2 separate regions of the Homo sapiens genome follow, and region 2 is linked to region 1. A link means that fine-mapping ties the variant in region 1 to the expression of a gene that starts in the linked region. Tissue or cell type: whole blood. Region 1 holds a variant in brackets; the other region holds the start of a gene. All regions are shown on one strand. Distances are from middle to middle.

Evidence for each region. PIP is the estimated chance that this variant, and not a neighbour inherited with it, causes the effect.
Region 2: NEBL starts here. The variant in region 1 is fine-mapped to the expression of NEBL in whole blood (TOPMed, PIP above 0.99). The same link has a PIP of 0.9 or more in T cells, blood mononuclear cells and monocytes.

What each region holds. Positions count from the first base shown.
Region 1 is chr10:21,209,638-21,215,095 of GRCh38, forward strand. It overlaps a transcript of NEBL not described here. Among named protein-coding and RNA genes, the nearest start is that of NEBL-AS1, 38 kb to the left of the region's middle. The variant C/G (reference allele first, on the strand shown) is at 2,741.
Region 2 is chr10:20,895,173-20,900,630 of GRCh38, forward strand. It overlaps NEBL (nebulette), which reads right to left and starts at 2,139. Exons shown (of 28, transcript NM_006393.3): 1 at 1,953-2,139; 2 at 1,786-1,857. The coding sequence starts at 2,033.

The sequences.
Region 1 (5,458 bases):
GGCACCTGACCTTTTTTTTTTTTCTTTTTTTTTTTTTTCTTTTTTTTACCACAGTTGTGACTCCTGGAGGACCAGGAGCCATCTTGAGATCACGAGGTAACAAACATGAGAACAGAGGCCTACACGTCAAAGATGGAGAAACAGAAAGATAATCAGTGCCTGGGTCCAGAAGGGATTGTTGCCCTGCTGGGGAAGGCTATCCAGGCTGACACTGTCTTTCCTTGCACTCCACGATTATCCTTGTGGAGCCAGGAACTGGTGTCACGCTTGTCAGGATGAGGGACCTTAGAATTAAACCAAGACCAAAAAGAGGATACAGCTGATAGAATTTCCCCAAAACCAGACCCATTTGGTTAAGCTGACCCTAAAGCCCCAATTGCTCAATACCTCCAGTTCCACGAGCCTCAAAATGTCCTTATTGTTTAAGATCATTTGAAGCAAGGTTTCTGTTCCTTGTAGGAAAAACATCATGGGCAGGGCATGGTGGCTCACACCTCTAATCCCAGCACTTTGGGAGGCCAAGACAGGCAGATCACCTGAGGTCAGGAATTTGAGACCAGCCTGGACAACATGGTGAAACCCTGTCTCTACCAAAAATACAAAAAACTTAGCTGGGTGTGGTGGCAGGCGCCTGTAATCCCAGCTACTAGTGAGGCTGAGGCAGGTGAATCACTTGAACCTGAGAGACGGAAGTTGCAGTAAGCCGAGACTGCACCACTGCACTCCAGCCTGGGTGACAAGCAAAATTCTGTCTCAAAAAAAAGAAAGAAAGAAAAACATCCTAACTAAGAAAACCAAACTCTCCAGTCCAATACATATACTTCTAACAGATTTGACATTTATCTCATTATACAAATATGCAGAAAGAAAATTAACATTAGGCAATATAACATTGCTGCCATTTTTAAGGAGGAATATGTATATTTTTACAAACAAAAATTCAAAGCAAAATCATACAATTAAATGTTTGTGTCAAGTATGTTTTTTCCATATCATTCTATGTATCTTGTAAGGCCTGTAAATAGATTAAAATTTTTGTTGTTACTTATTCCCACTGGTTCTGGAGTCATGCACTAAAGTGCTGCATTTTTAAGTTTCAATAATTGGACTCCTGAGACTCACAGAGAGGAGGAACATACGTTAAGATATCATATTCTATTCTCAACATGTGACTGTCATTATCTTCCAACTCAATAATGCTTATAAATGTACACGCTATGTATGAGCTACTGTAAGTCTTTAAAAAACCTGTAGCTTTACATTTACAGCTATCCTAGCCAGTAGGAGTTAATTTTAGCTGGGTTGCACCTATTGTTTCATGCATGCCCTCTAGGTTCTTTGGAAACACTGTAAAATATTATGACCCAAAAACAGAAAACCATGATCCATATCCTCAGTCACGTTTTCTTTGACATGGGCAACATGTCACAGATTCAGTAGGAATAAAGGCCACTCGCAGAAAGAGGAGATAGACTAAGTCTCGATTTGATCATCCTTATCAATGCTATGTAGGAAAGGAAAGGAAAATCCTGGCATGAAAACAATCAAAAATAGTCATTGGCCGAGTGCAACAGCTCATGCCTGTAATCCCAGCACTTTGGGAGGCTGAGGCTGGAAGATCACTTGAGAACAGGAGCTTGAGACTAGCCTGGGCAACATAGGAAGACCGCGTTTCTACAAAAAAATAAGAAAAATTAGCTGGGTGTGGTGGTGCACACCTGTAGTCCCAGCTACTAGGGAGGCTGAGGTGGGAGGATCGCTTGAACTTGGGAGGTGGAGGCTACAGTGAGCTGTGACCTTGCCAGTCTGGGCAACAGAGTGAGACTCTATCACAAAAGAAAAACAAACAAACAAAAAACAAAACAAAACCCTAAGGTTTTTTTTCTCCTGAGTTAGCTGATGTGTGCAGTCAAAAACCCTCTCTCCAGTTAACTGGAGAAAAGACTGGCCCCTTTAAAGATCTTGCTTCCCTGATGAGGAAAGCCAATGAGCTGCCATCTCCTCTTGAACAGAGATGCCAAACCCAGTTACGTCAACTTCAAAAACCCGTCTGAGTCCTTTTGTAAAGGTAAAATTTTGTTGTGACAAATGTTTGTTGTGTCAATGAAGTTGGCCATTGCCAAGGGAGATCCTTTTGTTGGGGAAGGATCCTCAAACCAGCAGTGATTGTGATGATGGAAACGGATCTGTCGTCATGGCTTCATTCATTCTCCAATGGTAATTGGAGAAGCACAGAATTTCTCACTCATGCTGAGGTCAGAAATCTTTCATAAATGACCTACCAAGTTACTATCAAGTGTGTTTGCTCTTATGTAATGCTAGTAAATACATTTCAGGGTTTTAAATCACTCAATTCTCTCTCTCTCTTCAGATATATATATCTATAAACATATGTACATATGTAAATGTTATGCATATATTATTATTACATATTATACAACTATTACACAGTATACATATAATATATACTATGTTAGATACAGTATATATACAGTATTATCGCTACATCTGAGTGACAACACTATATATACTACATATAATACTGTGTACAATATATGTATAATATGTCAGAAAGATAATACAAATATATGATTTATTATGTTACATATAATATACATATATAACAACTTGTAAATGTATATATATCTGTAATGTACAACACAATCTTTTTAATCTTTCAGGAAATTCACTGAAAATTAAACTGACAAACAAAGATTTCCCAATTAGTGCAATCCTGGCC[C/G]CAACTTTCCTTGCAAAGATTTCGAACACCCAGCGCTAACGTCTGGACAGCGCCTACCCCTCCTCAGAGTGATGGGAGGAAAGAAGGAAAGGCAAGCAACGGCTGAAAAGATGGAAGGAATAAACCAACACTCGTCATTTCTCAAGAGTTTGTGAAACTTCCCATTTTCTGTTAAGGAAGTAAATTACAGAAGCTTCGGTGAAAGGGGTGGAATCACCCGGTTCTTCAGCTTTGCTTAGCTTGTTGGATGACCAGGGACATCTTCAGATTTTTGTTACCACACCTGGCTCCTGAGCCAGGTCCTTCAGTGAGTGCTTTCCAAAGGCCCTGTGGCCACTTGCGACTTCCACTGGCTTCTCGTGTTTCGACACTAGTTTTATTTTTGAAATACTTGCCACTTTTCATCATAGGAAATAGCTGGCTTGACTACCGTTCTCACTCCTTTAGCTGCTGTGTCAATACTTCAAAACATTCAGTCAGTTAACTCGATTCAGTCAAAAATTGTCACAATGTTTAGCATTGTGTTGACAAAGCCTATGGCTTTGGAGAAAATACAGCTCATTAAGTTCTTAGTGATTCTTCATGGTGCAGAGCTACACGGTAGCAGCTACAAATGTAACCAGACCACCGTGACAAAACGAAGGCAATGAATTAATATCGGAGTGCTCACCATGTGCCAGGCACCGGTTGGAATTTAGCCATGTCTCATCTCACTTTATCTCACAATAACCCAAGCCCTTCAAGCTGATGGTTGCCCAAAGTTGGATTGAAATGATAGTTTATTATGCCATTTCTGTTTACTCACTAATACTCAAAGAATGCAGAAAAAGATAAGCTTGACAGGCAAATTTCAGTTGATGGTTCAGTTTCCTTGAACTTGTATTTGGTCTTGTTGCAGACTGATTTGACTCCCTTTAAAAAATCAGAATGTAGAGTGTCTGGGTTCCTGTGCCCAGAGAAAGGACATTAGAGAAGATTCAAAACAGATGGAGATGTAGAGCTGGTTGAGTGCAGGCGGAGGAAAACCGGAGAGGAGCGGAGGACGGGGGAAGCTTCAGTCTAAAGAACAGTGTCTATAAAATGCACTTTCAAAACAACACTGTCTGAATGCCTCCTTGTGTGCAAGTTACAGGGCTGACCAAGAGATTTTTAAGTAACCAGGAGAAGACACTAACTTTGCTAATGAATAGCCAGGAAGTGTTAATGAGGCATTCATGAAGATGCTCTCAGGACTTAGCAATGAGAATGTCCCGAGGCAGGGAACCAGGGCAGGAGAAGGCCTGGGGCGACCTGGGCTTGAGGAGTAGAGTAAATAGAGAAAAACCTTAGAAATGGGTTCTATAGCAGCCTTTAGCTATAATGTAAGTGGAGTTTATATCTTAAATAAATTATTCTATTTTTACTGCAAATATTCCTCTCTTAAAAGGACCAACGAATATCTACACATTATATACCTGCTCATCTTCCATGTTCTGTGCCCAGAGGAAGTCCAACAAGCTCGAGACACCACACATCATTTGCGAGGGAAAGGACAAGGTCTTCCTTAAAAGCAATAAACTGTGTCTCCTGGACTTTTATGTAAGTATCGGCTGGTAAAGGGAGTTGTCACAGACAATAGATTTTCCCCACAATTATAAAACTCAGCAGTTTTGTGTCTTGAATGATGATAATACAGACAGATAATTAAATCTTAACTTCTGTCTTAGTCTTCTTCAATTCTCAACAATGAATTGGTAATTTACTCATGAATTTCATGTATATATATGTATATAATATATATGTATAAGTATATGATATAGATGTATATATATCATATATGTATATCATGCACACACACAAAAGGCAAAGAAAAGTGCTTTCTATCTTATGTTTTTTCAAATTAAAAATTTGTATCTTGCACTTATTTTTAGTGGTATCAAATAAAGCATTCTTTGTACTTTCTGAAGATTTATTAAGACACTAGTAAGCCTTTATGCATTTGTGCTAAGGGAAAAAGGAAGAGAGGGAGGAAGGAAAGAAACAAGAAGAGAAGAAAGGAAAAGGATCTCCTCAGTATAACTACCCCATACACACATGGCACACACATGGCACACACATGCACACACACGCGCACATTACACACATGCACACACATGCACACATGCACATTACACACACATACACACATGCACACACATGTGCACACATTACACACACGCACACATGCACATTACACACACATATACACATGCACACACATGCACACATATGCACATTACACACACATGCACACATGCAAGATTGTTGGGTACAGTGAGGAAAGGGTTTTTCAGGTGCTTCTTTTTTAACTGCTAATTCATGGTATTTACAGAAAAGTCAGAAAATATATAGTATGTAAAAAGGGAAAAAATGGAAATCACTTTTAATTGAAGCTCCCAGAATTAATCATTGTCAGTATTTTTGGCTACACTCCTAATATTAGTGTCTTTAAAGAGAATATCCTGTGTTCTTTTAGAAAAGAATAGGAAATAAATTAAAGGACAGGCCCTGCTGTGTCTCTCTGCCCCCATCTCCTGGAATCTAGCTCCCTTTTCCCTGCCGGGGAGGAGCAATAAACTGTGAAGCCCTCCCTGTGCCACCTGCCTCACCCCACCCTGATCCCTCCGACCCCATGAAGAGATGTCAACTTCCACTTGGCCAGAGTTTTAAATCCACAAAACTTGAAGATTAGAGCGAAAT
Region 2 (5,458 bases), 310 kb before region 1:
ACCTACTAACTACAGTTACCACTTTAGTCCTGATGGTTTATGTAACACAAGTTAGCTCAGCTATAATTGCACTTCAATAAAAATATATCAAAGCTGGAAGAGGTTAGGAACTCAGGGTTTTAGTTGGTAGCATTACTACTAATAATAGTAACATAATAATAATAAGGCGAAGAACAACATTTCATGGAAATCTACAGGGAGAGATAACTTGGCAGTGTAAAGAGGGAGGCCTCTGTGTTCAACTATTACTGCCTCTGCTTAACTGTGTGACCCAGGCAAGGTACTGAACCTCTCTGTGCCTCTATCTCCTCGCTTCAGAAATGAGAAAAAGCCTAGCGCCTACCTCGCAAGCTGCAATCCCTGGCACACAATAGTCACTAAATCTTAACTGTTGCCAATAGTGTTATTGTTGTTGTTGTTGTCATTGTCACTTATTATTACTGCAATTTACAGAGAACTTTCACATACAATAGCTAATGACTATTAAGTAATAGCACAAAGAAATACTTAATTTAAAGGGTAATTACATCACATGTCAAGTATATGGGAAAGGGTATGATTTCCACCAGCATCCTTTGTGCTTGCCTTCTGGTTTGTCAGAAAGAGCCAGTCATATCTAAATTGTGATTGGATGGATGTAAAAGGAAGTAACAGACAGAGTAGTTAATAACAGCTAACATTTATGGAGTACTCACAATGTTCCAGATAGTTTATTCAGCATTTATATGCATTACCATTATTTAATCTTATTATAAATGTTACAGCTGAGGGATGGAGCCAAGCCAGGTTCCATAACCTTCCCAAGGTTACTGGGGAGTCAACCCAGGCAGGTTGACTTTGGAGGATGTGCCAGACCACTACCCTCCTGCCCAGGACTGACTTCCGTTAGAAAACAAACGTGCAAAACATTCTGATCATTTTGCTTATTATCAACAACAGAAACAACCAGTATTGTGCTCATCTCTCTAAATGAAGACACAGGCACATATTCACTTTACAGGAGTTACCCTTTCTCTGGACCAGCAATCCTCTTAGAACCGCTAATGAGGATCATCTAAATTCTCATCCCTGGTGAGCAACATTTTTCCTTGTACTTCTTGAATTCTAGCTTACATATTTAACATAAAATTATATGTTCAATCATTCAATAATTCTGGGATTCCCTTAAAGTGTAATATCAACCAATCCCAGTTACTAAAAAATGTCACAACAAAAATACCCCTTGCACTAATATCCTTGCACTAATATCAGGGTTCTTAGCAAGCAGGTCAGTAATCAACAAATCCTGAATTGTAAATAAATATTATATGCATATATATATATATATATATATATATATATATATGCATTTTCCTGTTCTGGAAGACAAGTCCATTCATTAGATTGTTCAGAAGGCCCCAAAATGTTAAAAAAATGACTATTCATTTAGATAGAGGGCCTCCCAAGACAAATTACATCATTATATTCATTTTAAAATCTTTGGGGGTTCTCAAATGGAATAAATACTGCAATTCAATGCCTTATGATTTCATGCCAGCGTGACAGCAAAACTCATAAGGGACAGGATTCTGGATTAAGAATGAGGAGACTTGCTCTAGCAGAAATTCTCTGTATAGGTGACCTTGGGGAAATCACTGAAAATTTCAGGACTTTGTTCCATGATCTGGAAAGTGACTGTGTTTTAAAAGGTGATTTCAGGGTTTCCCCCACAGCTCTATGACTCTATAACATAATAATACCACAGGTGCAATGCAAAATAAGACAAAAATTACTCCAGCCACTTACATCGCTAATGAGTTCCGTGCATTTTCTGGCCAATTCCATGCTTAAGTCTTCAATAACAGGCTTATAGAAGACCTATTTGAAAAAAAAGAAAAGAACAGAAAGAACATTTTTCTCATTGTCAATTTAGAGGAACAAACGCTGGTCTGAGTATGTGTTTTCTCACTCACCTGGTCTTCTTCATTTTCTTCTTCCCCTATCTTTTCTTCTTCAGTTTCATCTTTTATATCCTCAAATACAGGGACCCTCATTTTTACCCTTTAAAATATTTATATTTTTAAAATTTACTCATGTGGCGTCCTTTTCCATACCACAGTGCCCTTGAGATGCTGACGTCTCTGGTGCTCTGGCAGAAATGCCCTTGCCCAAGCCTCAGCCCTATTTAGCCCACACTTCACTCCTTATCTCAGTGGTGTGTGAGTGAACAGAAAAGGATCCCAGAGGTCTACCAGGCTGGCCTCACAAGTGGAAATAACATATTCTTAAGCAAAATTTGATTTTATGAACTTTTAAAGTCAACATTTTTTCCACTGGTTAAGAAATCCAAAAGAAAAAATTTATTTATCTTTTACTAATTCTATTCATTCATAAAAGAGCATAAAAAGGACTTAGAGATTCTGGGAAAACTACTCAGCTCTAACACTCAAGATAGCACAGTCCAAAGCCTGTTATCTCAAAGATTCCTTGTCTCTGTCTAAATAAAGCTTTCACTGGAATGTCAGACTTCCTTCTGACTTGGGGTAGTGAATCTGGATCATTCAAACTCATTTTGTCAACCTAAATTATATGTTTTATCAGACATACCAGTACTTCTCACATCCTAAAAAATACCCACTTTATATTAGCTGATTAGAGGCTACTTATTTATTATGAAAAGCCCTTTGAACCACTTCAAAGAATCTATTCTGAGTTAATTATGACTGTTAGTATTATACTGGCGAGTATGGTATTGTATTAATTGTAAACATCATTAAACATGAGAAGTTGCAGTTAACATATGTTGATACATAATTTAACAATTCTGGAAACATCGTTTCAAAAATCATCATCATCATCTTTGAATTCTGCAGTTCTACTCATCATGTCAATTTTTACAAAGTCATTGGTGATTTGCATTATTACTCAATGGGCACCCCACATTCAGAAAAGTTTGGAAAAATAAACCATCACAATATTTATAATGTAGTGTATGTCCTTGGTTACGTAAAACCAAGGTTAAAAAAAAATTTCTCAAAACAAATATTTTAATGTCAATTCAGGCAATTCCAAGACTCCCTACAACTCACAATTTATTAATCTGGTTATGTAAATCCTAGGGTAAATTAATTTTACCAAGTCATAGCACATTAGCATTGGGCATAAAAAATACCCTACACTGAATAGTAATACTGATGATACAAAATACAAATTTATTAAAAATAGTATGTCATTCTAAGTAGCCAAGCATAATTTTTTCTCTTGATATCATATCTAGTTTTCAATGTACTGTAAAAAAAAAATGCCTTGGCCTTACCTAAACTGAAAATCCTGACAAGAAAAACATTCTACACAGTCATCACGTATAAATTATTTCTGAAATTGTGTTCCATGAGGCAAAAGTTCCACAAAAGATTCTGGGGGAAAAAAGCAGGTTTCTTAAACAAATATGTTTGGGAAATCTGTACCCCAGTCTCTGTCCCTGCCACTTAGAGATCTACAAGGCATATTGACATACTAGAAGTTCTGAGAAGACCTTCAACCAAAAAACCTGCTTAGGCTTGCTTAACCTCGTGTTCCCCTGAACACAAACCTGTTTATCTCATCAAATCTAATCCAATTTAATCTAATCTACCTACCTACCTATCTACCTATCTTTTTTTTAATCATACCCACTACCCCAGAAAACTAACACTCCTCTGTGAAATATGACCGACTGCTTAGGGAAACATTGCTCTATTCTCCTAAAATGTTGTGTTCTAGAAGGAGCTGTTGGTCTTGAACTAGTTTTTGATACAGGCTAAATTAATGGTATCACATATCCTGTTCACCAACAAAATACCAAAAAGAAATTGCCTCAAGCATGCTGAACTTGGAAACCACAACTCTAAGATTACAGCCATATCATGCTGGCCCAGTGTAGTGGATTCCACAAGGACATTCCTTGTATATTTTATTTGTTCCGTAAAAGGAAAGAATGTGTGCATTCCAATTATTTCCCTCAAGTCCTCTGCTGGCCAGAAGACTATTCTAATATTCTATAGATCTATTACATTATCTTTATTTGGAAATAGGGAGGAGTAATTTCTGTAAACTTGTCTTGCAAATTTCTAGGAGTGTAGGGAGAAAATCTTGCCAAAACTGCCTGAGACACACCTTTTGGCTCATATTTGAGGAGACAGTACTGGTGTTACTCAGGGTGACACCTATTCCCCAAGGTGAATTACCTTCATCAGGCTTGCAGTGCAGTTATTTCTCATTTCCCATCACGTAATATGTTCTTAGGGACTCTTCACTGTGCTGCAAGAAAATAAGCTGTTGAGATTTAATGCACAAACTTTTGAAAACAAAAACCAAACACCACGTGCAATGTGAACACAAATTTTCCATTTGAGATTCTAGAATCAGAATTTCAAGCCAAAGGGATCCTTAAGAAATCAATACACCTAAAGCCCTCTCTTTCACAGATGACAAAATGAAGGCTATGAAAAATTATGTGTCTCATTTACAAAGCCATTCAATGAAGCACTAGGATCAGAACCTAACTAGAGACCTGTGTTCATTTGTTCAACAAATAAATGTTGTTATGCCAGGCACTGTGCTTGGTGTTAGAGATAGAATGGTGAATAAAATATTCTTCATACTAAGATAGAATTGGAAATAAAATACTCATCACTCAACACTTGCTGGATGAAGTCTTTAATGGATCGTTTGGCAAGCTAGAGACACCATTACTTTTGATTGAATACATCTTTTTTCCTCTCACCTATAATATAAAATTCATGCAAAGTTTTCTCTAAAAAAGTGTTAAGCCCTGCACTTCATCACAGCAAAGTTTTCTTGTCAGTAGCTCTAAAATATGACATGGAGAATATGAAGAAAGTGTTCCTCATGGACAGCTATCATGTTTCAAAATCCCCTATCGACTTTTCCAAAAACCAAGCTTAATGTATTTTAATAGATATTTTCACCTTGGGTTGCTCCAAAAGGCAAAATCTCTGTAGCTGCTCATAGCTTTTACTTATTGGGCACTTCTTTTATGTTGTTTACTTTTCTACTTTAGTACTCTACGCATGCCTTGATACAGAATGAGACCAAGAGACATCACTTATGGCTAAACTCTCAAAGTCCAGGTCTGGCTCTGCCATGTCCTCTAGGGCAAATTATTCAACCCCTCACTACCTCTAATTCTTCATAGTTAAACAGAAAAACTGAGTTGACAGAAGTTAATAAAAAGAAAGCACTGGCTGGGTGCGCAGTGGCACACGCCTGTAATCCCAGCACTTTGGGAGGCTGAGGCAGGCAGATCACAAGGTCAGGAGTTCGAGACCAGCCTGACCAACATGGTCAAACCCCGTCTCTAGTAAAAATAGAAAAATTAGCCGGGCATGGGCTGGGTGCGGTGGTTCACGCCTGTAATCCTAGCACTTCGGGAGGCCAAGGCAGGTGGATTGCTTGAGCTCAGGAGTTCGAGACCAGC